Homo sapiens: one gene and its partners. Changing the gene in region 1 together with any one later gene gives a genetic interaction. Each region holds a gene or a part of one and is shown on either strand. Other genes may lie near its edges.

Evidence for each region.
Region 2: changes in RAB1A (region 1) and RIC1 are lethal when combined (synthetic lethality), as found in Homo sapiens cells (one study listed by BioGRID).
Region 3: changes in RAB1A (region 1) and VPS52 are lethal when combined (synthetic lethality), as found in Homo sapiens cells (one study listed by BioGRID).
Region 4: changes in RAB1A (region 1) and TRAPPC13 are lethal when combined (synthetic lethality), as found in Homo sapiens cells (2 studies listed by BioGRID, with this or other methods).

What each region holds. Positions count from the first base shown.
Region 1 is NC_000002.12:65,118,909-65,127,792, forward strand, and holds part of RAB1A (ras-related protein Rab-1A), read right to left. Parts: intron 1-8,884. UniProt on the Homo sapiens protein: The small GTPases Rab are key regulators of intracellular membrane trafficking, from the formation of transport vesicles to their fusion with membranes.
Region 2 is NC_000009.12:5,624,568-5,633,260, reverse strand, and holds the start of RIC1 (guanine nucleotide exchange factor subunit RIC1), read right to left. Parts: upstream 4,155-8,693; 5' UTR 3,952-4,154; coding exon 3,808-3,951; intron 3,695-3,807; exon of another isoform or gene 3,534-3,694; intron 1-3,533. UniProt on the Homo sapiens protein: The RIC1-RGP1 complex acts as a guanine nucleotide exchange factor (GEF), which activates RAB6A by exchanging bound GDP for free GTP, and may thereby be required for efficient fusion of endosome-derived vesicles with the Golgi compartment.
Region 3 is NC_000006.12:33,261,877-33,269,837, forward strand, and holds part of VPS52 (vacuolar protein sorting-associated protein 52 homolog), read right to left. Parts: intron 7,944-7,961; coding exon 7,868-7,943; intron 7,682-7,867; coding exon 7,614-7,681; intron 7,314-7,613; coding exon 7,138-7,313; intron 6,774-7,137; coding exon 6,623-6,773; intron 6,333-6,622; coding exon 6,232-6,332; intron 6,122-6,231; coding exon 5,989-6,121; intron 5,864-5,988; coding exon 5,806-5,863; intron 5,446-5,805; coding exon 5,312-5,445; intron 5,198-5,311; coding exon of another isoform or gene 5,132-5,197; exon of another isoform or gene 4,856-5,131; intron 4,837-4,855; coding exon 4,681-4,836; intron 3,025-4,680; coding exon 2,906-3,024; intron 2,622-2,905; coding exon 2,498-2,621; intron 2,228-2,497; coding exon 2,132-2,227; intron 2,004-2,131; coding exon 1,896-2,003; intron 1,674-1,895; coding exon 1,608-1,673; intron 1-1,607. UniProt on the Homo sapiens protein: Acts as a component of the GARP complex that is involved in retrograde transport from early and late endosomes to the trans-Golgi network (TGN).
Region 4 is NC_000005.10:65,661,143-65,666,733, reverse strand, and holds the end of TRAPPC13 (trafficking protein particle complex subunit 13), read right to left. Parts: intron 4,685-5,591; coding exon 4,584-4,684; intron 2,501-4,583; coding exon of another isoform or gene 2,498-2,500; coding exon 2,350-2,497; intron 2,231-2,349; coding exon 2,123-2,230; 3' UTR 501-2,122; downstream 1-500.

The DNA of each region.
Region 1 (8,884 bases):
CCAGGTACAGTGGCTCATGCCTGTAATCCCAGCACGTTGGGAGGTCAAAGAGTGAGGATTGCTTGAGCTCAGGAGTTCAAAACCAGCCTGATACAACATGTGAAACCCAGTCTCTACAAAAAAAGAGAAAAAAGAAAAAAAATACAAAAACTGCCAGGCATGGGTGTGTGTCTATATTCCTAATTACTCCAGGGGCTGAGATGGGAGGATCACCAGAGCCTGGGAAGTCCAGGCTGCAGTAAGCCATGATCTCACCACTGTACTCCAGCCTGGGTGACAGAGTGAGACCCTGTCTCAAAAATAAAAAGTTCTTGAGGCCTGGTGTGGTGGCTCACACCTGTAATCCCAGCACTTTGGGAGGCCAAGGCAGGCAGATCACCTGAGGTCAGGAGTTCGAGACCAGCGTGGTCAACATGGTGAAACCCAGTCTCTACTAAAAATACACAAAATTAGCCGGGCATGGTGGTGGGTGCTTGTAATCCCAGCTACTCAGGAGGCTGAGGCAGGAGAATCGCTTGAACCTGGGAGGCAGAGGTTGCAATGACCCGAAATCGAGCCACTGCACTCCAGCCTGGGTGGGAGGCAGAAGTTGCAATGACCCGAAATCGAGCCACCACACTCCAGCCTGGGCGACAGAGCTAGACTCTGTCTCAAAAAAAAACAAAAAAACAAAAACAAAAAAAAACAAAAAAACCCTATCAGAATGAATCAAATCATATATAAACTAGCACCCAGAACCTGACCAAATACAAAGAAAAGTGTGATTCACTGCTTAAATTAAATTAGAACACTTGTGTTAGTAGAGAATAAGCTCAGCCTGGCGCAGTGGCTCACAGCTGTAATCCTAGCACTTTGGGAGGCTAAGGTAGGAGGACTGCTTGAGCCAAGGAGCCAGAGACAAGCCTGGGTAACATGGGGAGATCCTGTCTCTACAAAAAAAAAAAAAAAAAAAAAAAAATTAATTAATTAAAAAATAAAAATAAAAAAGAGAGTAAGTTAGCTCGGCTCAAAAAAGCCTGGTGAAGATGCCTAATTTGGAGTTCAGATTTCACTAGCTTTAGTAAGTAAGAAATCCAACTGCTCTTCATCAGGCAGATGCTAACCACCAATCTACACATAAAGCACTACATAATTATCCACATTATATATTTCACAAAATTGTTTCAAATGGCCTTTTATAAATTTAGCTATTTGACTATTTTTATAAATTTCATCTAACCCACTTTAAGACTAACATCTTAAACTCCACATTTTAAAACTCAAATTAGGCCGGGAACAGTGGCTCACACCTGTAATCCCAGCACTTTGGGAGGCCGAGGCGGGAGGATCACAAGATCAGGAGTTTGAGACCAGCCTGGCCAATAAGGTGAAACTCCGTCTTTACTATAAATACAAAAAATTAGCTGGGCGTGGTGGCGCAGCCTGTAATCCCAGCAACTTCAGAGGCTGAGGCAGGAGAATCACTTGAACCTGGGAGGTGGAGGTTGCAGTGAGCCAAGATCACACCACTACACTCCAGCCTGGGGGACAAAGCGACACCTTGTCTCAAAAAAAAAAAAAAAAAAAAAAAAACTCAAATGAGTTTGGGATACCAGATTTAAAGCTAAGCTTTGTCACTCTCAGATTTTCACATTTTAATATTGATAATGATAGTTAACATTCTCTTTTCTGTTTTCAATCTCCTAAATCAAGTATTCTTAATCTGAGGTTCATGAACAGCCTTGGTGTGAACTGCCTATAACTTTATGCAAAATGTTATATGAGTATATAGACACAAAGGGAGCAGATGCATCAAATGTAACGTGAGTATGGCTACACGACCATAAATGGGTTAAATGTAACAGTCCCAAATCAAGATACCAGAAAATATCTATAAGGAGAGTAGAAAGGACAAAGAGTAATTCCACTTAAGTACTATTATTATACAAAGGAAATACATTCAGAGAAATTAAATCCATCATTGTTCTTGGAAAACATGAATTACATAATTCACTGAGTTTCACTGTTGAAGATCACTAGTTTGAGACGCAGACTGCACAAAATGCCCTATGTAAAGACCATAGATGGCCAAGTGAGGTGGGTCACACCTGTAATCCCAACACTTTGAGAGGCTCAGGCAGGAGGATCACTTGAGCCCAGGTGTTCGAGACCAGCATAGGCAACATAGCGACATCTCATCTCTTAAAAAAAAATTAGCCAGGCATGGTGCCAGTTACTCAGGAGGCTGAGACAGGAGGATCACTAGAGTACAGGAGGTTGAGACTGCAGTGAGCCATGACTGTGCTACCACCACTCCAGCCTGGGAGACAGAGCTAGATCATGTCTCGAAAAAAAAAAAAAAAAAAACCATAGCCACGTGGCTGGCACCGAGTAAGTGCTAAATAGCACCTAGTATTATTAAAAAGTGATGTTTCCAAAAGAATGGTCCCTCTTGTGAATAAAGGCATGCATATTTAACACTACTTGTCCTAATTAGGAAATCTACAAGCATAGAACACAGTAAACTTAACTGGAACCTATCACAACCTTGGATTTAATAAAGCAGTGTAGGGTGTTCCAGCCAATTGAGCCAACCTGTCACAGAAGTACCAAGGAAAACTATTTCCTACTTCTTCTGTACCCTATCTCTCACATGTTTCAGTCAGCCAACAAACTAACACTTAGTTCTCTGGCTCCTCAGGACCATTTTTCCCCTGAATATCATTCCACCATTACCCTATTAATAATCTGCAACACTCCCAGGGTGGTTCCAAAGAAAGGCCAAGACCTAAATTTTCTTCCCTAAATTACATTCCAGATATCAAAGCAGTAATCTCAGCCCCACCTTCTATAGGGAAACAAAGGAATAGTCTAATTGCTCCCCTCTCCCTCTAAAGCGGGGGCCGGGGGGGAGTCTGGGCATTTTGCCTAATTCTCAAAGGAAAATTCCAAAATGTAGTGGCGACAAAGTGGTAAAAAGCTGATAAGCAGCCAAACGTAGTGGCTCACGCCTGTAATCCTAGCACTTTGGGAGACCAAGGCAGGCGGATCACCTGAGGTCAGGAGTTGGAGACCAGCCTGGCCAACATGGTGAAACCCCATCTCTACTAATATAAAAATTAGCTGGCCGTGGTGGTGGACGCCTGTAGTCCCAGTTACTCAGGAGGCTGAGGCAGAAGAAATGCTGGAACCCGGGAGACAGACGTTGCAGTAAGCCAAGATTGTGCCACTGCACTCCAGCCTGGGTGACAGAGCAAGACTCTATCTCAAAAAAAAAAAAAAAAAAAAAAAAAAAAAAGCTGGTAAGCTACACATTTAAAATACCTCATGCACTGGCACACTACACCCATTTTCAGTTTTTCTTCATCTTAAGACACTCAGCCAAGCGTGGGGCTCATGCCTATAATCCCAGCACTTTGGGAAGCTGAGGCAGGTGGATCTCGAGACCAGGAATTTGAGACTAGCCTGGGGCAACATATTGAAATCCCATCCCTACAAAAAATACAAAAAAAAAAAAAAAATTAGCCAGGTGTGGTGGCACGCGCTTGTATTCTCAGCTACTCAGGAGGCTGAGGTGGGAGGATCACTGAAACCCGGCTAGGAGTTGGAGGCTATAGTAAGTTATGATTGCATCACTGCACTGTAGCCTGCGTGACAGAGTAAGACCCTATATCTCAAAAAACAGACACTCAAAGTTGATTAGCAAATTTTTTTTAAATCTCAAAACGTTAAGAAGCATCTTATTTTACCCTAAACATGTTCATATATTAGGAAAGTATATAGCTTGCCACAAAAGAAAGCTATTCTGGCCAGACGTGGTGGCTCACGCCTGTAATCTCAGCACTTTGAGAGGCAGAGGCAGGTGGATCACAAGGTCAGGAGATCATCCTGGCTAACACAGTGAAACCCCATCTCTACTAAAAAATGCAAAAATTTAGCTGGGCCTGGCGGCGGGCACCTGTAGTCCCAGCTAATCGGGAGGCTGAGGCAGGAGAATGGTGTGAGCCCAGGAGGCAGAGCTTGCAGTGAGCCCAGATCACACCACTGCACTCCAGCCTGGGCAACAGAACAAGACTCCGTCTCAGACAAAAAAAAAAAAAAAAAAAAAGCAAGCTCTTCTTTACTATCCAAAATAAAACTGAACTATTCAAACTACAAATAGTGAAACCATCACATAGGTATAGTCAAAACTACCCAGAAGAGAAAACACACACATACACAACACACAGCCAACAGATTGCTATGGAAGGTGAATATAGCAGGATGTTAGCACATACGTAAATTTTTTTTTTTTTTTTTTTGAGACAGAGTCTCGCTCTGTCGCCCAGGCTGGAGTGCAGTGGCGCGATCTCGGCTCACTGCAAGCTCTGCCTCCCGGGTTCAAATGATTCTCCTGCCTCAGCCTCCCAAGTAGCTGGGACTACAGGCGCCTGCCACCACGCCCAGCTAATTTTTTGTATTTTTAGTAGATGGGGTTTCACCGTGTTAGCCAGGATGGTCTCGATCTCCTGACCTCGTGATTCGCCCACCTCGGCCTCCCAAAGTGCTGGGATTACAGGGCACATACATAAATTATTAAGATTGCTTCCAGAATTAAAAAGACCAAGATACCTGAGAAATAAAATTACTCAGAAAGCAAAATTCCCTTTAAAAGCCAAGTAGAAGCCAGGCGCGTGGCTCACACAAGTAATCCCAGCAATTTGGCTGAGGTGGGTGGATCACGAGGTCAGGAGTTTGAGGCCAGCCTGGCCAACATAGTGAAACCCTGTCTCTACTAAAACTACAAAAATTAGCCGGGTGTGGTGGCACACACCTGTACTCCCAGCTACTTGAGAGGCTGAGGTGGAAGAATCACTTAAACCTGGAAGGCGGAGGTTGCAGTGAGCCGAGATCACGCCAACGCACTCCAGTGACAAAGTGAGACTCTGTCTCAAAAAGAAAAAAAAAGAAGCCAAGTAGAGAACTGGCAAGGAAGATTTGATTTTGAAGCACTTCCATCTTTAAGACAACGTTAAAAAAAAAAACTAAACTAAAATATTTGATGGTTAAAAACTGTCTAACATCCCTCATTTTAACTTAATTTGATTAAAGGGGGAAATTTTTATTTTTTATTTTTTTGAGACAGAATCTCACTCTGTCACCCAGGCTGGAGTGCAGTGGCCAATCTTGGCTCACGGCAACCTCTTTTTCCCAGATTCAAGCGATTCTCTTGTCTCAGCCTCCTCAGTAGCTTGGGACTACAAGCGCACACCACCACGCCTAGCTAATTTGGTGTTTTTAGTAGAGGCAGGGTTTCACCACATTGGCCAGGCCGGTCTAGAACTGACCTCAAGTGATCTGCCTGCCTCGGCCTCCCAAACTGCTATTACAGGCGTGAGACACCTCGCCCAGCCAAAAGCGGGAAATTTTTTAATGCAAAATTTCAGGCTGGACATGGTGGCCCACCCAGTGCTTTGGAAGGATCGCTTGAGGCCAGGAGTTTGAGACCAGCCTGCACAACATAGGAGGCACAGTCGCTACAAAAAAATTTTTAATGTGAAATTTCAGTTGTTATCTTCATTTTATTTTACTTTATTTTGAGACAGAGTCTTGCTCTGTCGCCCAGGCTGGAGTGCAGTGGCGCAATCTCAGCTCACTGCAATGCCCACCTCCAGGGTTCAAGAGATTCTCCCGCCTCAGCTTCCCAAGCAGCTGGGACTACACGCAGGCACGACCACACCCAATTAATTTTTCTATGCTTAGTAGAGACAGGGTTTTGCCATGTTGGCCAGGCTGGTCTCAAACTCCTGACCTCAGGTGATCTACCGCCTGGGCCTCCCAAAGTGCTGTGATTATAGGCATGAGCCACTGTGCCAGGCCTCAGTTCTTATCTTTAAATGATCCTACAAGATTATCTCATCATCTCATTCACACAAAATTCTCAATATATATATTTTAAAGGTTTTATACAACTACTGAATACTTAAATTACCGGAAGAATTACAGATGGTGATATTCTATAGACATTTAAAAAATCATATTCTGGACAATGAGAATACTAGTTATCTTTCTTCTTTAAACTTTTCTGAGTTTTTCAAACCACCACCAAAAGTCACAAAGACAACCTGCTTTCACTTTCAAACACTTAAGTTTTGTTAAAAATTATTTGAAACACAATGCAAGCAAAAAAAAAAAAAAAGGTCAAATGTTTCTTGAGTATAACATGAAAGAAGAGCAAAGTCTGAAAGACTGATAACATTTTCAGAGATTCTGGAGCCATGATATACTTAAGGGGATGGGGGCTAAAAATAAGGTAAATACTTTAAACTTTTTCTGCATTAAAGAATTATAGTTGATCTAAGTAGACTACTATATTTCTTCCTACTATAGTTAGCTGGTATACTGAAGACAGGTAGACATGCTTTATTCTTAACACATTCCTTAAAGATGAACCAATCAAAATTATTTTCTTGACACTAAAAAAATCCACTGGAAGCCAGTGGATTATGAAAAATGTTATGAGAATAATCACGAGAATAATGTTAAGTATTTCTTTCTTTTTTTTTTTTTTTTTTTGAGGAGTCTCACTCTGTCCCTCAGGCTGGAGTGCAGTGGCATGATCTGGACTCACTGCAGCCTCCGCCTCCCAGGTTCAAGTGACTCTCCTGCCTCAGGTTCCTGAGTAGCTGGAATTACAGGCGTGCACCACCACACCCAGCTAATTTTTGTATTTTTAGTAGAGGCAGTGTCTCATCATGTTGGCCAGGCTGGTCATGACCTCAAATGATCCGCCCACCTCGGCCTCCCAAAGTGCTGAGATTACAGGCGTGAGCCACTGCGCCTGGCCATGTTAAGCATTTCTTAATGTGCTGAAATAATCACTGCCTGCTTCAAAACGTAGCTCAAAAAAAATCCACATTTTTCTTCAGATCCTCAAAAAAAAGCTTTAACCCTTTCTATCTACTTTTTTAACTGTTCAGATTACACTTTCAATTGCCTTTTTTTTTTTTTTTTTTTTTTTTTTGAGACAAGTCTTGCTCTGTTGCCCAGGCTGGAGTGCAATGGTGTGATCTCGGCTCACTGCAACCTCCACCTCCGAGGTTCAAGAGATTGTCCTGCCTCAGCCTCCCGAGTAGCTGGGATTACAGGCGCCAGCCAACACACCCAGATAATTTTCTGTATTAGTAGAGATAGGGTTTTGCCATATTGGCCAGGCTGGTCTTGAACTCCTGACCTTAGGTGATCCACCTGCTTCAGCCTGATCAACATTAGAGATGGCTGGGTACTCTATACAAAAATTAGCTGGTTATGGTGGCAAATGCCTGTAATCCCAGCTACTCAGGAGACCAAGGCAGGAAAATCGCTTGAACCCAGGAGGCAGAGATTGCAGTGAGCCAAGATCGCGCCACTGCACTCCAGCCTGGGTGACAGAGTGAGACTCCATCTCGAAAAAAAGAAAAAGAAAAGAAAACAAAAACAAAAAAAAACACAAACAGCCAGGCACAGTGGCTCACGCCTGTAATCCCAACACTTTGGGAGGCCAAGGCCCGGGCGACAGAGCAAGATTCCGTCTCAAAAAAAAAACAAAACAAACAAAAAAAGTAATACAGCTACCAACTCTTATGTAAACCAATATAAATCTAAAAATTCTGTTGCTTCAGAATCTTTTTTCTCAAGATCCCATTTTCACTACCAAATTTAGCAGAACCCATTAACAAAGATTATAAATTTCTAAAAGAAACAATATAAATTGGTAATGATAAACCAAAGTAACTTAAGGAACATCTGGAGTACATTTGTAAACATTAGCTAATATACCATTGTTAGTTATTAAGATAACATACTGGAAGCAGGAAAAGCATCCACCCATTAAAGTTTTAATTGAAGAGAAAGCAAGACTTTGGAGTTTGGAACAAGATGTTAAAAACGAATGAGCTTGTATTTGCGTGATAAAACACTAAAGAACTTTTCTTTCTTTCCTTTATTTTCCAAATTTTCTCTAATTACTTTTATAAAGATAACAAGCTTCATTAAAACAAAAAGAAACTGCTTAAGTCAGATTACTAAAAATCTGATTGCTCACTGCCCTTGTGACCTCCCCTAATAAAATATCCCTCACTTCCTCTCACCCTAAGTAATTTTCACTAACACTTTTGCAAAGGTTTTCTCAAATTCCTGTATTATTTTACTAAACAGTCTAGAATACAAATATAGTAGGCCAGATACCCATGTATTTGATCCCAGAAAAAATATAAAAACTGTTTCTGGGTTTGATCCCTTTGAGGTCATTAGTCTTCAAAAGAAAGGATGATTTGACACCGTATTTACTTATTAATTACTGTCCTTGTCATTTATGAGCCATTCCTCCTTCTTCTCCCCCTTGAAAATTCCTAGTCACTCCCTCTGTTCCTCCAAATCTAATTGCTGATAAATCCCTTTCAGGTCTCTCTTCTATAAAGTCTTCCAAAACCCAGATAGCCAACCACAACCCACCATCCCCCTGAAATCTTGTTGCTCTCATCCATGCCACACATCTGGAATTTGCTATATCTACTGGTATTTGACATGTATAAAATCTATTTCTGCCGGGCGCGGTGGCTCACGCCTGTAATCCCAACACTTTGGGAAGCTGAGGCGGGCGGATCACTTCGGGAGTTTGAGACCAGCCTGACCAACATGGAGAAACCCCGTCTCTACCAAAAATACAAAATTAGCCGGGAGTGGTGGCACATGCCTGTAATCCCAACTTCTCGGGAATCTGAGGCAGGAGAATCACTTGAACCCAGGAGGCGGAGGTGGCGGTGAGAGGAGATTTGCGCCATTGCACTCCAGCCTGGGCAACAAGATTGAAACTCCGTCTCAAAACAATAAATAATTTTTTTTTTGAGACGGAGTCTTGCTCTGTCGTCCAGGCTGGAGTGCAGTG
Region 2 (8,693 bases), on another chromosome or scaffold:
TCTTCCTGAGGTCAACACAGTTAATCACATACCTGATCCAAAGCTTGGTTCTTTTGACATATCATTGTTTTTTTCCATGATTAGCACATACCAATGGGAACTAAGTTTTTGCTCAGGATTACTAAACGACATATAATTTATTTTATAAGCCTAGTAATTATTTGCCCATTTCAGCTTTTTATTAGCTACCTACAACAGTGATATCTCACAAGATTTATATTAACACACTAACATCTAACACACTAACATATAACATGTCTCTTCATCCCTTTTATACACATCTGTCTTTTACAGTTGATGTTCAAAAATACTTCTGAAGCTAATTTAAATGTTTAAAGTCGGTGACCTGAAAAACGAGAATGTCTATACATCTAATTTAGAATGGCTAAATTCAAAGATACCATTCTGATGTTCACATATATAGACTTTCATAGTCACAGTTAGTATATTAAAGGAATAATTCTGGGCCCTCAGTACAGTACAAAATGTAATTCATCTCACACTACACCTACGTCAATCATAAATCATAACCTACCTTATGCAACAGTTTCATCCTCAAAGCTGAAACTAGTCCTTTTACAATAACCTTAGCAGAAATGTACCAACTGCCCCCAGTCAAGTTCTACCTCTACCACCCCAATCTAGCCTACACATACTGAGCCTTTTTTTAACACCATTTGGGGGGCTCCAAAATATAATATTGGGGCTCCAATATAAAAAAGCTAAGTAACTATCTAGAGGCTCTTTTGTTCATAAACAACACTATACTGTATTTCTCAAATTTGGGGTAGGAAATAATTCTGAAGAGATATGAGTCTAAACAGTGGAATTCCGAATACCTACTTAGAATAGAGGACAGTAGGTATAAGTAGTACATAAAAGTTCATTAGAAGACCCATATAATGTACAGTTAGAGATTTTAATAGAGATTCAGTCTTATGAATTATCACTGTACACATACAATTTCCACAATTCTTTTGAACATTGAAACAACCAGCTTAGACTACTAAACGACTGTCCCTTCCACAAGGCTAGTTGTCTCTTTTTAAAATATATCACTCCTAAGAGAGCCTGATTTACTAAGTGAGCCCTAACAAAATTTCAGGTAAGCAAATCTTGTTTTATCATCTCTACGAGCATGTCTCCCTGCCTTCAAATGCCCTCAAGCAGCTGTAAGACTTCAACTCTGTAAAATCCTGTAGATCTTCACATATTATTATAAAACTACTTGTATCTACAGCCTCTCAAAAATCAAAGCTTTTAGCAGCTCCATGAGAACTTTTTAAACCAATTCACTCTAAATTATGGAAGTATAACTGATAGCCCTTTAATTTACCTAAAGGCATTTTCACTTTTAAATGAAGTTTGTTAACCTAATTAACTTACATACTTTCAGGAAGTTTACAAATTAGAAAATCAAAATGAAAACTTTCATACAGAGTAAGAAAGGGCATATCCCAGGAAGAGAAGATTGGAAGCTGGAGTCTAGCATATGTATCCCACTCACCTAGGCATGTAATCATACACCTTATAATCACTTGGTTCAATATTTGATTTTTTTTTTTTTTTTTTTTTGAGACAGAGTCTTGCTCTGTCGCCAGGCTGGAGTGCAGTGGTGGGATCTTGGCTCACTGCAACCTCTGCCTCTTGGGTTCAAGCGATTCTCCTGCCTCAGCCTCCCGAGTAGCTGGGGCTATAGGCGTGCACCACCACGCCCAGCTATTTTTTTGTATTTTTAGTAGAGACGGGATTTCACCATGTTGGCCAGGATGGTCTCGATCTCTTGACCTCGTGAATATCTGATTTTTTTCAGTGACAACAAAGCTGGTGCCCAGAGACCAAGGTTAACCACTCATACTACAGTACTATACAGCCTCCTCTAAGGTATTCCTGCATTTCATTTCACTCCAGACCTCTAAACCCATGGGTTCCCTACAGCCTAACTTTTGCACAACAGAACTTAATAGTAGGGGTCCCTGGACTTCTGTGGAAAAAGGAAGTTGCATGTGAGGTGGGAATTTGAAAGAAGAGTATGAATAGTTTAAATTCCAGAACTGCCTTGGATTTCTAGATGTCGTATGTAACTCCAAAACCAAACAATAGACATGCTTAAGAATATTCACAATGTCCCTAAATTAAAGCATATGTTTATGCTTCTCTTATGGGGGAATAAAGTGGTTTACAGGCTTCTGGTCAATTCATAGGTCATATTGTTTACTTTTATTTAAAATTAAGTTAGGTCTGCCTTTTTAAAGGTAAGAAAAGTTAAATTTTAGACGAAAGTCTAAATTTGTTACATTCAAAAGGAATTATGTATTAAATTCAAAAGACAATTTAAATTCAAGTTCTATTTTTTTCTGCATGTGCTTTAAAGTTGAGTTATATACACCTAAACAAATTAAAAATTATTCAACTGGCATATACATTGTAAACGAATATCTCATTTAGGAACCAGATGATACTTTATATATATTTACACATATGTTTATATATATACACACACACATACATACATATATATTCAAAATACAATCAGGCACTAGACAAAATAGTCATATTGTTGGTATTACGATTTTATAAGTTTGTTTTGTTCTGATTTGCATTTGAAAATTAGATCAGCCAAAACTTGATGGCAAATAGTCTGATTTACAGCCCAACTATGACAGTCAAAGGAGACACCAGAATTACCCGTCACTAAATCCCATCACCAGTATTACCAGGGAAGTGGGTGAGGACTGTCAAGGGCATTACAGGTAATGGAACAGCAACACACAAAGATTTGGGGATTTTAACAAACTAAAACCAGTATTTCACGAACACCTAATAAGGACAAGATCACAACCTATCCCCACATGGTCAAATTAACTTGGAAAGGAGAAAAACTTCACTCTGACATCGATTGGTACTGCCTTCTTTGGGGAGGAAAAAAAGCATTTTTATACTCTGAACTCTGTCGTTCTCATAGACAAAGTTATAGCAGTGTTTGCAGAGAGTAGGGAGTATCCCATCCACCACTTATTTCTTTCTCATATCTACTCAGTAATTCAATACAAGAAAGAAAAAGATAACCAGGACTTAAAGCAAAAACAGAATTCAGTTCCATGCTCCTCCCAAGCCTTATTATTTCCAGGTGTTATAACTGGGAGTTCCGCGGACAGATTTGAGTTCTACTTCCGCTCCTTTAACCCCCTATTCCGAAGAGTCCAAGAGCAGCAGCAAAGAAAAAGACCAACTCGAAAGTGGGGAAGGGATGTTGGGGTTAAAGAGGGGAGTTAAATAACCAGACCTTTAGTGAAGAATAAAGAATTCAGGCTGTAGTTTGTAGAAATAAGTTATTACAGGCCTGTAAAGTCTGGCGCTGGGTAAAGCCCAAGAGGCTTTCCCTAACTCCAAAACGGCGACCTTTAAAGTAAGGGAGGGTTGGGGCACCACAGCGGCCGGATTTCTAATTGTGGAAAGTTTAAACAAATTTGTCCCTCGGGGAATGGGGGAAGGGAGAGAAGAACAAGTCTGGGCTCGGCCGGGGAGCGTGCGGAGTCTGCACGCCGCGGCCGTCGGTCCAACGCGGGGAGGCTCAGGGATTTTCGGCAGCAGCGACTTCATCCACCCCGGACCGCCGGCTGGAGGACGTGCCTGCAGCCGGCGGGTACCTGCGGCCAATTCGGTGGAACGAGGACGCGGACTGCGAAGGCAGGTGGGTCTGGCACGAAGGGGCAGGAGTCCTAGGCTCTGGGTGGAAGTTGGGGGTGGGACGGCGCCGGGAGGCCGGGGAGGCAGCGGCGAAAGGCGGCGGGCGGCTCTACTTACTCGGCTGTACCAGATGCTGAGGCGGGCCGCGGCCAGCACGGCGAAGAAAGCCCTCTGCGGGTCGGACTGAACGTGGAAAGGCGCCTCGGCCGGGCTCCCCAGAGGGCACAGCAGCCTCTTGGGCCAGCCGCTCAGAAAATACATGGTCCGTGCGGAGCCCCCGGCGCCCCCAGTTGCGTCCGTCACACTCAGCGGCCCCGGGCTGGTCGCCCACCTCCCACACCGCCACCGGCCGAGTCGGCGGCGGCGGCGGCGGCAGCTCGGGGCATCTGCCCGCTGGCCTGGCCGGGCCGGGCCGACGCAAGGCTGCGCGACGAAGGCACCCCCAAGCTGACGGGGCCGAGTGTGGGGGAGGGAAGGGGAGGGAGAGTAGGGACACAGAGAGGGCGGGAGGAGCGCGGAGGCCCGCCCCGACCCCGCCCCTTCCTCAGGCCGCGCGGGCGTCACCACGCCGCGCCGCGTGGGTCGGGCCGGGGAGGGCCCGCGCGCGCGCTCTGGAGACTCCTGCGGTCTCCCTAGCTGTTTCTTGAAGCTCTGCATAAGCCTCGCCCGCGGCCGCCGGGTTGCGTCCGCACTTCTGCGCGCTGGCCCCTCCCTTGCTCCTCTCCCTAGCAGTCTCCAGGGTTTTACCGGGAGGACCTAGGCAACGGCCTGAGACTCCGAGGCAAGTGGGGCGAGTCTAGGGATAACGCAGCAGCAAGGCTACTGGGCCGGTGGAACACGCCCTGGCCTGGCCAAATTGGACCTCCCTTCCGGATTGGCGGGGTCTCGGTGGGGGCGGGCCGGTTGCCGGGGGGAGCTGGAGTCACGTGACGGCCGGCGCGGTTTCCCACTTTGGGCTGCCGGCCGCTGTGGCTGTGGTGGGCGGTAGGGGCTTTTACCGTGTGAGCTCCTTTAATGCCGGGGTCTGCAGTGAGAGCTGGTGATGAAGCTCCTGCCGGTGTGGAGCTTACATCCCTAAGGGAGCGTTTATTTAATCAGTAAATAAACCACTCACCATGAAAGTATTGAGTTCTGTCTCCTGCCTTTCAGGAGTTCTAAATCTATGTCTTTGAAATCCATTTCCATTCGTCTCAGCCTTACCAGCCATAACTTTAGATGAGAGGAGGCTATCTCTTTCGTGCTGCAAAAGGCTTGGACTTAGTTTTAGAACTGGAAGGGACTGGTGATAGCGTAGGTCCATATTTAGCTTTTGGACCCCAGGTATCACCTTAGCTGTAACTTTCAACGGATTGACCCAGTGGTAACGTCTGAATAGAAGGAGGGTTGAGGGGATATGGTGTGGAATGGGGGAAGGAGGAGTCTGAAATAGAAGAAAGATTTGCTTCTCATTGTCTACCTTTTTTAGTACAGTTTGAATTTTTCCATATGTTTGTATTACTTTTTCAATTAAAAAGCCAGGTTTAAAAAATGACCCCACATTAAAAAGTAGCAACGTAGGCGGGGTGCTGGGGCTCACGCCTGTAATCCCAGCATTTTGGGAGGCCGAGGCGGGCAGATCACTTTAGGTAAGCAGTTCGAGACCAGCCTGGCCAACATCGTGAAACCCCCGTCTTACTGAAAATACAAAAATTAGCTGGGCGTGGTGGCAGGTGCCTGTAATCCCAGTTCCTCAGGAGGCTAAGGCAGGAGAATCGCTTGAACCTGGGAGGCGGAAGTTGCAGCAAACCAAGATCCCTCCACTGCACTCCAGCCTGGGCAACAGAGTGAGACTGTCTCAAAAAAAAAAAAAAAAGTAGCAACATAAACAGAAAAAAGGAAACAAAGAAACTTAATTCATATTAGATATAGCATTGTAGCTGGTATTCATAACCAAATATGTAACTTTCTGTAATTTTTCTAAACATTCACTGCATTCCCTGGAAGGTGATGATAGAATCCTGTATTCCTCAAATGGAGGTTGAAACTGCCTCACCACTCACCAGCCTGTTGCGATCAGATTGTCTCCTTGGCGTCTACCCTCCCCCAGTCCAACACAGCAGCCTGGAACATAGTAAGCATAGTAAGCTGGCAGTATTTGTCAGACAAACCGTGGAGGAAACCCTGATCCAGCTGAGCTACACCATTAGACAAAGAGGCCCAGAGAGGTTTCTTAACTTGCCAATTTCAAATTGTAGAATAACAAAGTTGCATCATACTTTCATCTTAGATTCAGTTATGCACTTGGCAGAAAGAGGAAATGAAAATGTTCTAGTGCAGCAATTTTGCTGGCAGTGTTACTGAATGTTTGTCCCAGCTGTCTCTCAGAGAGTCTTTGTTCTCATGTGTCTCAAGTTTGTCATACTGTGCTCATGGGCAATTTAAGGAACTTCTAAGCAATTTTTATTGCACTCAATTTTAACCTTACTTGCTGACTTTAGAAGCTTATTCCTCTGCCACACTCCTGTGTAGCACTTAAGATTCACAAAATAATTCCAAATGCTTGTCTTGATTTAATTCATAGTAAACATTCAAGGTGAGTGACATTGGTGTGATGTTGTTATTCTCACTTTCTCAAGTGAGGAAACAGGACAGGTGTGGTAGATGTGCCTGAATTCACATGGCCTGAAAAGAACTGATGTTCTTTCTACAGATCCAGTGTGATTTCTTTCTTTTTTTTTTTTTTTGAGGTGGAGTTTCGCTCTTGTTGCCCAGGCTGGCGTGCAATGGTGCCATCTCAGCTCACTGCAGCCTCCACCTCCTGGGTTCAAGCAATTCTCCTGCCTCAGCCTCTGGAGTAGTTGGGATTACAGGCATGCACCAACATGCCTGGCTAATTTTGTATTTTTAGTAGAGACGAGGTTTCTCCATGTTGGTCAGGCTGATCTGGAACTCCCGACCTCAGGTGATCCGCTCACCTCGGCCTCCCAAAGTGCTGGGATTACAGGCGTGAGCCACCGCACCCAGCCTCCTGTGTGATTTTTTTAAAAATTTAAGGTTTGGCTGGGCGCGGTGGCTCATGCCTGTAATCCCAAAACTTTGGGAAGCCAAGGCAGGCGGATCATGAGGTCGGGAGTTTGAGACCAGCCTGGCCAATATGGTGAAACCCTGTCTTTCTGCTAAAAAAAAAAAAATACAAAAATTAGCCAGGCATGGTGATATGCACCTGTCATCCCAGCTACTCTGGAGGATAAGGCAGGAGAATTGCTTGAACCTGGGAGGCAGAGGTTGCGGTGAGCCGAGATCGCTCCACTGCACTCCAGGCTGGGTAACAGAGTGAGACTTTGTCTCAAAAAAAAAAAAAAAAATTAAGGCTTATGGCATCCCTGCATCAAGTAAGTCTATTGTTGCTGTTTTTCCAACAGCATATGCTCTTTAGGCTGAACTAAATTGTGGTAATTGCTCTGGACAGTGAGAGGGAGTGGGGGAAACCTCTAGGTCTTTCTCCCTGGCGGGGAGAAAAGGAAATATCTGACTCTCCAAAACCCTATACTTGAGAGTTCCCCTATTGTGACAAAAATGTTATTGGCTGGATTTTTCAACATCATTTCTTTTTCTTTCTTTCTTTTTTTTTTTTTTTTTGAGACAGAGCATTGCTTTGTCACCCAGGCTGGAGTGCAGTGGTGCAATCTTGGCTCACTGCAACCTCCGCCTCCCGGGTTCAAGTGATTCTTGTGCCTCAGCCTCCTGAGTAGCTGGGACTACAGGCATGCACCACCACGCCTGTCTAGTTTTTGTATTTTTAGTAGAGATGGGGTTTCATCATGTGCCAGGCTAGTCTCCAACTCCTAGCCTCAAATGATCCACCAGCCTCGGCCTCCCAAAGTGCTGGGATAACAGGTGTGAACCGCCGTGCCTGGCTTCAACTTTCAAATATCATATTTTAACTTTATTTTGTAAAATATACTGACAGTTCTCATGCCTTAGGTCTTCTCCTCCTTTTTCTACTAGTTTCCACCACCACTCCTGTCAAAATTTTTGGACTCTGTTCTAAGATTAAGCTTATGATAAAAGTTAGTAGGGGGCCGGGCAGGGTAATCACGCCTGTAATCCCAGCACTTTCGGAGGCAGAGGTGGGCGGATCACTTGAGCCCGGGAGTTTGAGACCAGCCTGGGCAACATGGTGAAACCCTGTCTCTACAAAAAATCAGTCGGCACTGTGGCATACACCTGTGGTCCCAGCCCCTTAGGCGGCTAAGGCAGGAGAATTGCTTGAGCCTGGGAGGCAGAGGTAATAGTGAGCCAAGATCATGCTATTGCACTCCCACCTGAGTGAAAGGAATGAAATCCTGTCTCAAAAAAAAAAAAAAAAGTTACTAGGTGCATGTTTTCATCTATGAAACTTATAAACTTTTTAAATTACTAGAAATAATGTTGGTAAGAGTACACATAAGAAATGGGGATACATTTATACTCTCTTGATGGAAGTATGATTTGGTGCAATTTTTTTTTTTAATATAAGGTTTGTGGTAACCCTGTGTTGAGTGAGTCTATTGGCACCATTTTTTCTAATAGCATATGCTCACTTCATGGCTCTTATCACATTTTGGTAATTCTTTCAATATTTGAAACTTTTTCATTATTAGTATATCTGTTATGATGATTTGTGGTCAGTGGTCTTTGTTGTAACTATTGTAATTGTTTTGGGGTGTCATGTACCACATCCATGTAAGATGGAGAACTTAAGCGATAAATGTTATGTGTGTTCTGACTGTTCCATCAACTGGCAGTTCCTCTGTCTCTCTCCCTTTCTTTGGGCCTCCCTATCCCCTGAGATGCAACAATATTGAAATTAGGCCTGTTAGTAACCCAACAGTAGCCTCTAAGTGTTCAAGTGAAAGAAAGAATCCCCGTCTCTCACTTTAAGTAAAAAGCTAGAAATGATTAAACTAAGTGAGGAAGGCATATTGAAAGCAAAGATAGGCCAAAAGCTAGGCCTCTTGTACCAGTTAGCCAAGTTATGAATG
Region 3 (7,961 bases), on another chromosome or scaffold:
CTAAAAATACAAAATTAGCCAGGCATGGTGGCACATGCCTGTAATCACAGCTACTCAGGAGGCTGAGGCAGGAAAATTGCTTGAACCTGGGAGGCGGAGGTTGCGGTGAGCTGAGATCGCACCATCGCACTCCAGCCTGGACAACAAGAACAAAACTCCATCTCAAAAAAAAAAAAAAAAAAAAAAAAAGCTTCTGCACAGCTAAAGAAACAATAAAGTGAAGAGACAAAGAATATTTGCACATCCCATCTGCCAAGGGATTAATAACCAGAATATATAAGGGGCTCAAACAACTCTACATGACAGTCTAATAATCCTATTAAAAAATGGGCAAAAGATTTGAATAGATATTTTTCAAAAGAATACAAATGGCAAACAGACATATATGAAAAGGGGCTCACCATCACTATTATCAGAGAAATACAAATCAAAACTACAATGAGATCTCATCTCACTCCAGTCAGAATGGCTTTTATCCAAAAGACAGGCAATAGCAATGCTGGCAAGGATGTGGAGAAAAGGGAACCCTTATACACTGTTGGTGGGAATGTAGATTAGTACAAACACTTTGGAGAACAGTTTGAAGGTTGCTCAAAAAACTAAAAGTAGAGCTACCATATGATTCAGCAATCCCACTGCTGGGTATATACCCAAAAGAAAGGAAATCAGTACATTGAAGAGATATTTGCACTCCCATGTTTGTTGCAGTATTGTTCACAATAGCTAAGATTTGGAAGCAACCTAAGTGTCCATCAACAGATGAATGGGTAAAGAAAATGTGGGATATATACACAATGGAGTACTACTCAGCCATAAAAAAGAATGAGACTCAGTCATTTGCAACAACATGCATAGAATTGGAAATTATTATATTAAGTGAAATAAGCCAGGCACAGAAAGACAAACGTCATGTGTTCTCACTGATTCGTGGAATCTAAAAATCAAAACAATTGAACTCATGTACTCATGTACGAAGAGAGTAGAAGGATGGCTACCAGAGGCTGGGAAGGCTAGTGGAAGGCTGGGGAGAAGGTGGGGATGATTAATGGGTACAAACAAAAATAGGAAGAATAAATAAGACCTACTATTTGACAGCACAACAGGGTGACTATAGTCAATTATAACTTAATTGTACATTTTAAAATAACTTAGTGTAATCGGATTGTTTATAACACAAAGGATAAATGCTTGAGAGGATAGATAAAGAAAAAAATAAAATTCATTCTAAAAATAAAAAATTAGCTAGGCATGGTGGCTCGCACCTGTGGTCCCAGCTACCCAGGGGGCTAAGGTAGAAGGATCACTTAAGCCCAGGCTGTTGAGGCTGCAGTGAGCCATGTTCATGCCACTGCACTCCAGCCTGGGTGACAGAGTGACACTTTGCCTCAAAAAAAAAAAAAAAAAAAAACCAAAGACAAAATAAAATAAAATAGACCAATAATGACAGTATGTTGTGAATCAAGAGTTACAGTAATTCCGCATACCTGAGATCCATTATGCCACTCCCTACACACACACACACACACACACACACACACAGAGAGAGAGAGAGAGAGAGCTGAAAACAGCACAGAAGGCTGTCTCTTCCCTTTTCCCCACACCCCTACCTGTGTCCGAGCATTGAGCAGCTGCTGGAAGCTCTCAACCTCTTTGCTGTCATCTGCAGCCCGCTCCTAAGGGAAGACAAAGGGAAATGTCTAGTTTGGGGAAAGCAGTCCTTCACTTCAGGATGTCCCCTTCATTCCACACTTATTGTACTAAGCTGGACACTGTGCCAGACTCCAAGAGTAAAACACTGAACAAGACAGGCATCATCTCTGCCCTCACAGAGCTAACAGCAGTGGGGGAAACCGAATTTTCTGGGTAGGAAGGCAAGGAGAAGGAGCACCTATTACCATCAGCACACCCAGCATCATGTCATAGTTGTTGATCAGAAACACAAGCTGCTCCTTCCTTGAGGAGAACTCAGCTGCCACTCGGAGGACAAAATTCTCCACCTCCACCTGAAAAGGCAGAGAGGAAGAGGTGACACCAGAAAGCAAGGTCATCTGGGCCCCATCTGGCTCCTCCTCAGACTCCACCCACTGGAAGCAGCCCTGCTGCTGGGAAGTGTCTCCTGTCCGACCCTCACCTGCAGCTGTCCCAGCAATTGCATGGTCCGTTCATTAGGAATTGTCTGGTTGATACTGACAAGAGCGGAGGAGAACTCTGCATAGCGGCGTGTGATCTAGGAGAGAGTGGGAAGGAAAATCACACCCACCTCCTGGCCCAACCAACACAACCTCCCAACTTCCTTAGCCAACCCACCTCCATGTGATGTGACTCTACCTTCAGTCCCTCCTACCCACAGTGCACCACTCACCATGAGTTTCACCACCCTCCCAGAACACCTGCTCATAGCGTGGCCCATGACACAACTGTGACCTTGGCCAACCCCCACAATGATGCTTAGAGCCCTGCCTTTCAAGAACCCTTTGTTACCCTTGCCCTCCCTCACATAGTGGGGCCGAGTATCCAACCCCCCTAGGCGCTGGGGGTCAGTGCTTCGGACGCTCTGAACATTCATCTCCAGGATCAGTTCAAACCGTGGCCATAGCAAGGCAAGCACCTGTTCCCAGTACCTGTGGGCTTAATCAGAATCAGAGGTCAGCCAGCAAGGAATGTTGGAGGGGGATGGGAGGGAGTGGGGCATCATTCAGTTTAATGGTCAATAGCTAGTTGTGGGGGTTGGGGGGCAGTGGTTGGAGAAAGGTGAGTCAAAAAGCAGCACTACTGCCTCCGGAGCAAATGAATGGGAATAAAGGTTGATGATACCAGGTCAGTAGGAGTCTAAGGTCAGGGCAGAGTCATGCAAGACCAAGAGAGTTCGTGGCCTGTTGGGCATCAAGGACCAGAATTCAGTGACCTGTCCAGGGCAGGAACATCCCTCTTTGCTGCAATGTTACGGAACCGGAGAACAATGTGGATACAGAGAAAAACAGCAATGGCATCGTAGCAGTCAGCTAGATAAGAATCCAGGTGTTTCTGTGTGATTGGGGAACAAACAGAGGATTAAAAGAGAATGTCAGTTTGTTGTCCTCAGTGACTATGAACAAACGCATTTGTTTCTTTGGGGATGATGCACTGGACAGGACAGAAGGGAGAGACGTAAAATGGAACTGCCCCCTGCTTTCCTGTCCAGGATCTATGTTTTTGGCTTTTTTTTTGTTTTTTGAGATAGAGTTTCACTCTTGCCACCCAAGCTGGAATGCAGTGGCACAATCTCGGCTCACTGCAACCTCCGCCTGCCTCCCAGGTTCAAGCAATTCTCCTGCCTCAGCCTCCTGAGTAGCTGGAATTATAGGCGCCTGCCACCACGCCCGACTAATTTTTGTATTTTAGTAGAGATGGGGTTTCATCATGTTGGTCAAGCTGGTCTCGAACTCCTGACCTCAGGCGATCCGCCCACCTCAGCCTCCTAAAGTGCTGGGATTACAGGTGTGAGCCACTGCACCCGGTGTTTTCGGCTTTAGAGACAGGTTGTTTTGTCACCTAGGCTGGATTGTAATGGTACAATCATAGTTCACTGCAGCCTCAAACATCTGGGCTCAAGTGATGTTCCCACCTCAGCCTGCCAAGCAACTGGGACCATGGGTGTGTACCACCATGCCTGGTTAAGTTTATTTTTAAATTTTTTGTAGAGACAAGGTCTTGCCGCATTGCCCAGGCTGGTCTCGAACTCCTGGCCTCAAGCAACCTTCCTGCCTTGGTCTCCCAAAGTACTGGGATTGCAGGCATAAGCCACTGCACCTGGCCACACCAGGATCTATGATCACAAGCCTATCACAGCAGAGTTCAGGGCTGAGCTTGGGTCAGGGGTTTGAGCACCAAGATTTGGGGGACCCTCAGTTTTCACGTGCTATTGCCTGATTGTGGGTCAGCAGTAGGGGTAGTCTCAGGGACCCTACGCACTGAGGATTTCATGGGGGAGTAACACTGTGACAAGTCTAAGTAACAAGTTTTTTTTTTGAGATGGAGTCTCGCTCTGTCACCCAGGCTGGAGTGCAATGGCGCAATCTTGGCTCACTGCAATCTCCTCCTCCCAGGTTCAAGCAATCCTCCTGCCTCAGCCTCCCGAGTAGCTGGGATTACAGGCCGCGCACACCTGGCTAATTTTTGTACTGTTAGTAGAGACAGGGTTTCATCATGTTGGTCAGGCTGGTCTCAAACTCCTGACCTTGTGATCCTCCCGCCTCAGCCTCCCAAAGTGCTGGGATTACAGGCGTAAGCCACTGCACCTGGCTATTTTTTTTTTTTTTTTTTTTTGAGACAGGTCTCACTCTGGAGTGCATGGCTCACTGCAGCCTTGACCTCCTGGGCTCAAGCAATCCTTCCACCTCAGCATCTTTAGTAGCTGTGACCACAGGCACACATCAACACACACCCGGCTAATTTTTCATTTTTTGTAGAGATGAGGTTGTTGCCCAGGCTGGTCTCAAACTCCTGAGCTCAGGCAATCCTACTGCCTTGGACTCCCAAAGTGCTGGGATTATGGGTGTGCACTACCACGCCCAGCCAAGGCTTAGACATTTTAGAATGAGGCGATCCTGATTTCAGTTCTACCAGAGTCATGACCCCACTATGCTGCTGATGAAGACTGGGGACAAAGGTGTTGAATGGTACAGGAAACAGGAGTCTTACCAGGGTCATGCTGAGTGTACGGCCCATGACAGCATGGAACAGGTCGTGTGCAGCTGGGCCAGACACAACAAAAAATTCACAGATGAAAAGGTATTCGCGGCAGGAATTGTCTAGGAGGGCGTAGTGCTGGCTGCGGAAGAGGGCCTCAAATGGATACTGGGAGAGGAGGAGTAAAGAAGAAAAACAGAAGGGATGGACCCCAACACTGACTTCCCATGGATATGGCTGGAAAATCAGTAAACCTGAGTAATAAGAGCTAGGCAGACCCTTCGCATCTATCTAGGTCCGGGCTGTCTAAGAGCAAGCTGAATGGGCACTGAAAAGGTGGGGGAACATAGGGGTACAAAAAGGGCCTACACCCACCTGCTGTTGCTACTCCTGCATCCACCTCAACACCTGCCTCTGACTGTCATTCCCCTCATCCAGTCTCTCCCCTCTGCATGCCCTTAAGTCAATGGTTCCCAGCTCTTTTCACATCACAGCAGGCTGGAGTGATTGGAGAAGGCCACTCCCAAGTCTAAGGGGATTAAGACAGGGCCTGCAGGTTGGGAAGCTCTGCCCTGAGGTCTGGCCTTCCCTCCCCACCGTGCTCAGAGCCTCTTTCGTGACTGAAGCTTGTTCCTCCTCATACCCTCTGCTCTCCGCGCTGCGCTGTGTGAGGCACCAGGATGGGGGCCTCAAGTTCAGTGGGGGAGATGACAGAGCCGCGGGTTCCTAGGGTGAAAATGGTGTTCCTGCTGCGGAGCGATGGCTTTGAGAAGAATCGTAAGATGGGTCAGAGTCAGGGAAAACAATGAGACCATAACTGGGCCCAAAGACTCACTATCTGTGGGGACCCCAGACAGGCAGACGTGGCCTAGCCAGCCCTCTTTCCCAGTACTAGGGCCCCACGTGCTGACATCTGTGAATGGGCTTCAGGGTGTCTCTCCCTCCCTTGCAATCATATGCAAAACTATGTGTCAAAATAATGTGTGCATCTTTCTGGGGAGGGAGGCTATAGCTTTCATCACATTCTAAAAGGTTTCAGTCCCATAGGAAAAGGTAAGGAGCAGTGCATTGGTGGCTGGAGTCGAAAGTCCTCCCACTCTCAAGGCCTGGCATGAGGGTTCCCCAGTACTAGGATATCTTTCTTTGCTGTATCTTCCACACCCATTAGATCATCTTTCTCAGCGACTTCCTCATACTAAGGAAAGAGAAAAGAGAACTGATAACCGTCTCTTCCCACAACACAATAAAATATTCCTTGCCCAGGGATGTCCCCTCCTCCCAGTCCATGTGCCCAGGAATACCTCTCCCTCCTGACCTTACCTGCACCTTCATGAGCCGCCCCAGGTAAGAGCGGTAGTAAGACAGGTAAATCTTGCTCAGCGTCTCCACATATTCATCCCTGATCTCCTTTGCTGTTGCTCGTTCATTGCCCAGCAGAAACTGATAGAAGAACCTAGGGGGTCAGGAACATGTCAGTCTACCTGTCTCCCAAGAAACCAGATGCCCACACTAGGCCGCTCAAAAACTCAAAGGCCATCCCATGCACTTCCTTGGGGTTGTGACCTGTACTTCAGCAGGGCCGTCTGGGGGATCTGATAGTTGGTCATGGGTTTCCTGAAGGAATAAATCTTCTGGAGGATAAACTCTCGGATCTTCGTCACTGCCTAGATGTGGGGAACCAAACACAGGGCATGAAGCTGCAACCCTTTTGCTGTATGAGAGGAACTGGGGGAAGCAACAAATGGTAAACATAGGCAGAAGGGTGGTGAATATCTCTTTGGTATTTCTCAAGATTTTCAGGGAAACCCAGAGAGACAAGAATGGGGCTGCCCAGAAAAGGCAGGGTGAAGTCCCTGGAGACAGGCTACAGTGAGCTCTGCCAAGGAAATCCATAGTGAAGATCTTGGGAAGGCTGCTTCCAGTAGCCTCCAGGGTATCCATCCCTACTTCCCACCTTGACCCGGAGCCGATCGAGCACGCCTCTGACATCTGCGCAGGCTGCTGTGCCTCTAGCTTCCTGCTCTCTGACTGCGGCTGCCTTGGCATCCAGCTCCTGTAGCTGCTCCAAGAACCTGGGCTCTGTCACTGGAGCCTCCAGAATTGCCCTGGTTAGCAGGGAGGGGTGGGATGAGTTACAAGGGAGACCCAGACATCCCTAAACCAGACCCAGACCACACTCCTTACCTCCAGCCCCTGTCATCTCTACCACCTTGCATTGTACCATATAGTCAGGACACATGTACAAAGTTTTCTATTCCTGGACCTCCCCACTATACACCTGATCTTACATCATTCTTAATCTTAATCTTTGATGCCTAATGCATACCTAAAGAAATGGTGGTTAACCTGGCTACTAATTTCTAAAAAGCACTTAACCTGGAGCCAGGAGACCCATATGGTAAATAGGGTGGGTCACCCCAGCCCATCCACCTGCTATGGACATTATAACCCTTCAAACTGGTAACTCACGTGACCAGAGCAGAAGGCACCACCAGACCATCAACAAGCTCCCCAAGTTTCCCCCGAACTGCCTGGCGATTTCGAAGTCGAATGTTCATGGCTCCTGACTGTTCCTGCAGTGTCCGGATCTCAGAGCTGATGGAGCTGAGGTCACTCTGAAAAGCTCCCAACATCTGCTCCATTCGCTGTAGGGAGGGTAGATGTTGCCGGAGTGCTATAGGGTTTGTAGGGGATAAGTGGGCCACCAAAGACTCTTTGTGAAGTCTTCAGTATTTATCAGTCCTTGAGGGTGGCAGATGATGAGACACCCCAGATTATCAGGAAATAACATTAAATATGGCAGTAATAACAAAAAAGGCTCCTGAAGTCATCTTGAAAATGACCCTAACCTGTCCCCATCTTGAGGCTGATGACCTAAAAATGGCACCAGAGTCCATGATCTGGTTCAGAGTAGCTATTAGGGGTCACAGGTCATGATTACTAACCTCCAGGACAGCATCACAGGCTGTGATCTGGTTGTGTAGAGATGCTATATTCTCACTCTCTTGAATATCTGATCCACAAAAAGTCAAGGGGCCTCATGGTGAAGATGGGAGATCCTCAGATTTGTAGTACCTCTCCAATTTCTCTTTGAAGTGATAGAAACCTCAGAGATGTTGACCCCAGCTGGGACATCTGTACCACACGCCACAAAATCCCCATGTCAATAGCACCACCCCTTCCCTCTGCTGGAGGATACAATCCCGAATGGATTTCTGTTCAATCTGCTGTAGCTCCAGCTCAACTTGCTTTGAATAGTGACGGAGATCTACACCCTGGGAGAACATAAAGAT
Region 4 (5,591 bases), on another chromosome or scaffold:
CTATCTGTCCACTTGCCTACATTTCCATTCTATTCAAGCCATTTTTGCTCTTCAAGTACCTTGATCACTTTGGAATCATAGCATTGCAAGCTATTTCAAAAAAAGTTGCGTGGTTGGATTGTGCTAGCTACTTTTAAATTTATAAAAAATGCCCCATATATTTTCTTGCTTGTCTGGGAAATATAGTTGCTATCTAACTAGAAAAATAAGAGGGCATTATTAAAGTAACTCTTTAAGCATCGTACTAAATGTTTGACTTCCATTAACCATATTTCTTGTAGTAGCTGTAGCTATTATGATACTGTGTAAAACAGAACAGGTTCTATATATGCAAATGACATTTTCATTTAATGTACCAAATTGTGTATCTAACTTTTATAATATAGGTTAAACAGATCCTTTCTAAGATGGCATTATTTAATCTTTACTTAAAACTATGAAAAATATGTGTAAGTTATTGTTTATAAACAGAAGAGACTATAATTAAAATATAGAGCAGATTCCAAGTGACCATCATTTTACTTTTTAGATTTAAAACAGAATGAAACAGAAGATTTAGTCATAAGAAGATGCTTGAAAAACAATCCAAGTATCCAATGCAGTGGCTATAAAATATTATTTCATCATTTAATCTTAATCATTTTGAAACAAAGACAGACTTCAATTTTACACTGCTTGCACTTTATTTTGTACAGACATTTCATTAATTATTACTCAATTTTGAGGTGCAAACCTTCTGAATATAGCTTTCATTTTGGACCAAACAATTTGTTATGGCAATAAATAATGATGCATTGAAAAACCAATTTTTGTATTTGATTTAATGCACTCTTACATTTAAGAAATTATATATACATTCTTGAATTTCAACTTACCAAAATAGAATAGCTTTTATTTAACAGCCTAAGCTTTTGTTTTCCTGACAAATACTGAAACTTTTTGTTACATTAATGCTGCAAAGTTGTTTATCACCTCAACTTTCTCACTGCTTTGCTCATAACTAAGTGTGATTACATGGAGAGAGAAAGTTTTGTAACAGTAACACATGATTTAGAGTTTAAAATCATATCAGAAGATGGGAATTATTTAAATATACCTTATAAAAATAAGTGGCTTAATCAATGAGAAAAAAACCCAGGGGTTTTTGGCTTATAATTAGAAAATAAGTATTATTCTTAGTTAATAGTTAATTAAAAAAAATCAACAACCTAAAAAGTAAAACCAATTCTGATGTGTTCAGTAGCTGAAAGATATGTATGTTTGTAGGTATAATATACAAATACAGACACAAACCATTACAGTAATTTTGAAAACAACTAGAAAGCTTATACTGTGTTGACAAATATCAGGTTATAAGAGGACTACCCCCTTTGTTTTAAGCAAACTTTTTCTGCTGACCGAATAGCTAGGAAAAAACTGGAGTTAACTGAAATATTTCTAACCAAAATATTACAAAGTTCTAAGAAACAACTCTATCTTCTAGATTGAGGTCAGCCAACTATACCCTGCAGGCCAAATCTGCCCAGCTGCCTCTTTTTTTTTGAGACAGAGTCTCACTCTGTCGCTCAGGCTAGAGTGCAGTAGCATGATCTCGGCTTAACTGCAACCTCTGCCTCCCCGGTTCAAGTGATTCTCCTGCCTCAGCTTCCCGAGTCCAACTGCTTCTTTTTGTGTACACCACTGTACTTTTTTTGCCTACTGGCTGCTCTTGAAGTACGATGGCAGAGTTCAGTATTTGTGACAGAAACCTTACGGCCTGCAAAGCCTAAAATATTTAGTATCTTGTACCTTACATAAAAAGTGTGCTGACTCGTGTTCTAGATAACTTGCTAGGGACAAATGGTCTCAGATACACAGCTTTTGGAGAACAAAGTCCAATGGTCATCTAAAATGAAATGAAATTAAATAATAGGTGTAGAAAATATACACATGTTCATTTCAAATATAAATTACAAGATAAAATCAGATCTCTTCAAAACAAATATTTAATATTTTAACCATTTTACAGGAAAGAAAATTTAAGTAACATATTTACTTCGTTGTTGACGTCATCATTTTACAAAGGTAACAAAAAGAGCAGTTCTGTGAAACTAAATGAAAAGCCTAACATTGGAAGTTTCCTTCAGCTTTCCACTTTAATGGCAGAAGATACCACACAGACTTGTGCGATGTCATCATATTCATATGTTCTCTTTAAGAATGTGTCTGTTAGTCTTAAGCCAGAGATGCTCTATTGAGAGAGAGAGAGATGAGTCTAAGTTTTCATTCATTCAGAGGAAATACAGACATCACAAATGACTTGTAAGTTAACAGCACCCAAATATTGGAATTTTTGAAAAGACAGCATACTTGCAGTCCCTGTACTGAAGAAAGCAGAGTAAGGGCAAGACAGAGCGAAGAACTTGGATGCAGCTTTCCCAGCTGTCTTCCTGAAATTCCACACCAGTGGATGGAATTGGTATTGCACATTTCCAAAACCAGATCCATAGTCCTTTCACTGCTGGAGGAATCAGAATAATAGGAATAAATCTTGTTCATTTCACAAAGAGGTACTGCAATATTTCTACTAGTGACAGTAAACTTGTTTTCTCCATATCCAGGAGAATAAAAACCAGAAAGAGAAAAGCTATTATAACATTTTTTATGTCACTTAAGATAGAACCAGGAAGATGAAAGGAAGTCACACCTTCTAGCACTTAAAATAGCCTCAGACTAATCTGCCTGTCTGGATGTTGGCCTTCTGGTTCTATTACTCAACACTGGCCTCCTGGTGCTGATCTGGTGCTACCATTTTTCTGGGAGACTTCCACACATTTGTGTCTAATCTTGTTGCCATATATTCTCACTATTTCTGTTAGGTACTCTACAGGAAAAGAAGAAAACAACTGATTCTGGTCTAGTCCTTTTGATACCTAATCTATGTTACTTTACCATAACTTGGGAAACAACTGGCAGGATTCATAAGACATAAATACTATTCAGGTTTGCTAACTGGATTATTTACCAAGAAAAGACTACTTCTGCTTATAATAGATATCACCAGTTCAGCTTAAATAAGTTAAAAAAACTTTTAATGAAAGTATGCACATTGTTCTTCTTTAAATAACCAAAAGGCTCATAATGAAAAATAGTCTCCTACCACCATTCACGGCTACTTATGGCTTTTAGCTGTTTATTCTTATACTTGGCTCCAAATTTTAAATTGCTTATTTAAATTTTATTTTTTTTAGACATATTGACTTTATAATATTAACTTGTATATGCCTGAATCTCCCTAACAAGCATTTGAGATGGCTACTATGTGCCAGAGACCAAGGTGGATGCACTACATGAATATTGTTAATTTCACAAAAATCCAGTAAGACTTATATATGTTGTGTGCATGTGTCTGTGCATGTCCCTGGTGTGTAGGGGCAGGGAATGACATTTATATAGAGAGGAAACTAAAGATCTAAGAGACATGTGCTTTTTAGAAAACTTGTATGAATCACCAAAAGTTAAAGTGAACACCAAGAGAAGTTAACTTTTGAAAAAAATAACACTTGTGAGCTGGTCAATAAACTGATTTGCTGAAAAAACTTAAAAAAAAAACCAAAAATTCCCCAACACCCTGTAACACCCTATAAGCACAGGGTCTTTGCCCTGTATTGTTGTTTACTGAGCTCACGATGTGGCAGACACTGAGTAAGGCCATGTCCCTTCTCCTGAATAATTCCAGTCCAGTGAGAAAGAGACTAATACTTACAGTAATATATGAGTGTCACTAAATACACAATATATGAGTGTCACTAAAAAACTAAGTTAAAATTTTCTATGATGGAGAAGGCATGAATACCTGTGCTTTGGAAAGTCTAGGTAGCTTCATAGAGGAAGTGGGTATTTCTGTAATTTTGAAGGATAAATATTTCCTATCTTTCTAATACCAAAAAGAATAAATATGGAATTAAAAGGATTATACATTCACACTAAGAGGACTAGGATTCATCACTGCAATATTATAAAAATACCCCAAATAATAATACAAACCAAGTGGTAATACAAGTAGGAGCAGAGGGCATAGGACTGGAACTTAATTCTATTTTTTTCTGGTTTCAAAGCCCTGTGCTCTTTGCTTCCTGACAGTTCAGATTATGCTCTCTCTTTACTGTCAAAACCCAGTTTTCGAATCAATGATCTCCCCTTACATTAAATCCATAAGCAATGTTTGGTTTCTTAATACTCAAGATACAGCTCAAGTACAAGCATGCCTCAAAAAATCTTGCTACTTCAATTCATAATATATTAATACATAAGAACCTATTAGTTCATGTTTTGGTGAAGGAAGTATAAACAATGAATACCTACCTCATAGGGTGTGACAAATGAATGAAATAAAATACAGAAGATGCATAATACAATAGGCCCTTAAAAATATGTAATTATACTGCTACCAGATGAAGAATTTTACAGTACTCAATATCAACATCAGAGAAGGCTGTATGTCAAGAGGAAAACTTAAAAGGAGATAGTAACAAAAAGATTTTAAAATTATCTTCTAGGCAGGTGAGGTAGAAAGGACATCCATCTACAAACAGTGGCATTACCTGCAGTTTGTTATTTTACAGGTAATATGAAAAGGTTCTTCAAGGTTTACGGTATCTGGTATTGCCTCCAAAGACAACCTAACATCTCCATAACCTGGAGCCTAAGAAAACAAGCAACACAGTTAATGTATATCTATCACAAAACCTTTCCATTTTAATGAAGGCACCACAGCAGCACATTTACTCAACAGCTGTTGGGTTTCCAAGCTGATGTTCTAAGAAAATACTTCTGATTCACTTTACTTGTCTCTCATTTTAAATTCTTTTGCAGCTACTGCCTGTGGAATAGCCTGGCAGACCTGGACTGTTTTTGTTATATAATTATTCCATGTTCAGTAGAGTTAAGATGAATCTCACAGGTAAGTAGTCAGTAAAGAAATTTCAGGGAGTTGAAGGGACACTTTCCAGATGCTGTAGCTTCTATGTGTGTAACTCTAAATAGGTAAAGTTATTTTCTAAAGAAAGAGGGGGATGATGTTGAAAGGAGCCAGGAAGAAAATCATGACTTTTTACAAGACGCACAGATGAGGATGGATTATAACAACACGAAGGCTTGGAACAGGCCATGGCAGAAAAATAACTAACGGCTATATTTAAGTGGGCCCAGGAATCATCATCATCATTTTTTAAAAATTATTGCCTCAAACAGTGGAAAGAAAAGTAAAATTTGGAATATGTCAAAACAGGTAATATTCAGCATAAAGGGAGGAGAATCCTGTCGTATATTCTTACAAGCATAAGAAAAAGAAGCCTGGTAGCTATCCCTACTCTCAGAGAAGAAATTAGGTAAAATATGCAACCAATGCTTATAAGATAACTTTAGTAGAACTCACCTTCTGAGGAGATGCCTCAGATTTTTAACATCTTAAAAATGGTAGGAACTGAGTAGGTGAATGAAGTAAGTCCAAGAGTTTCAGGACATTGCAAAATAGAAAACCTTAATGTGTTTGGAAATCAGAAGAAGAGTGAGCATGTGTTACCAAAGGAGAGACACTTAATAACAGTTAT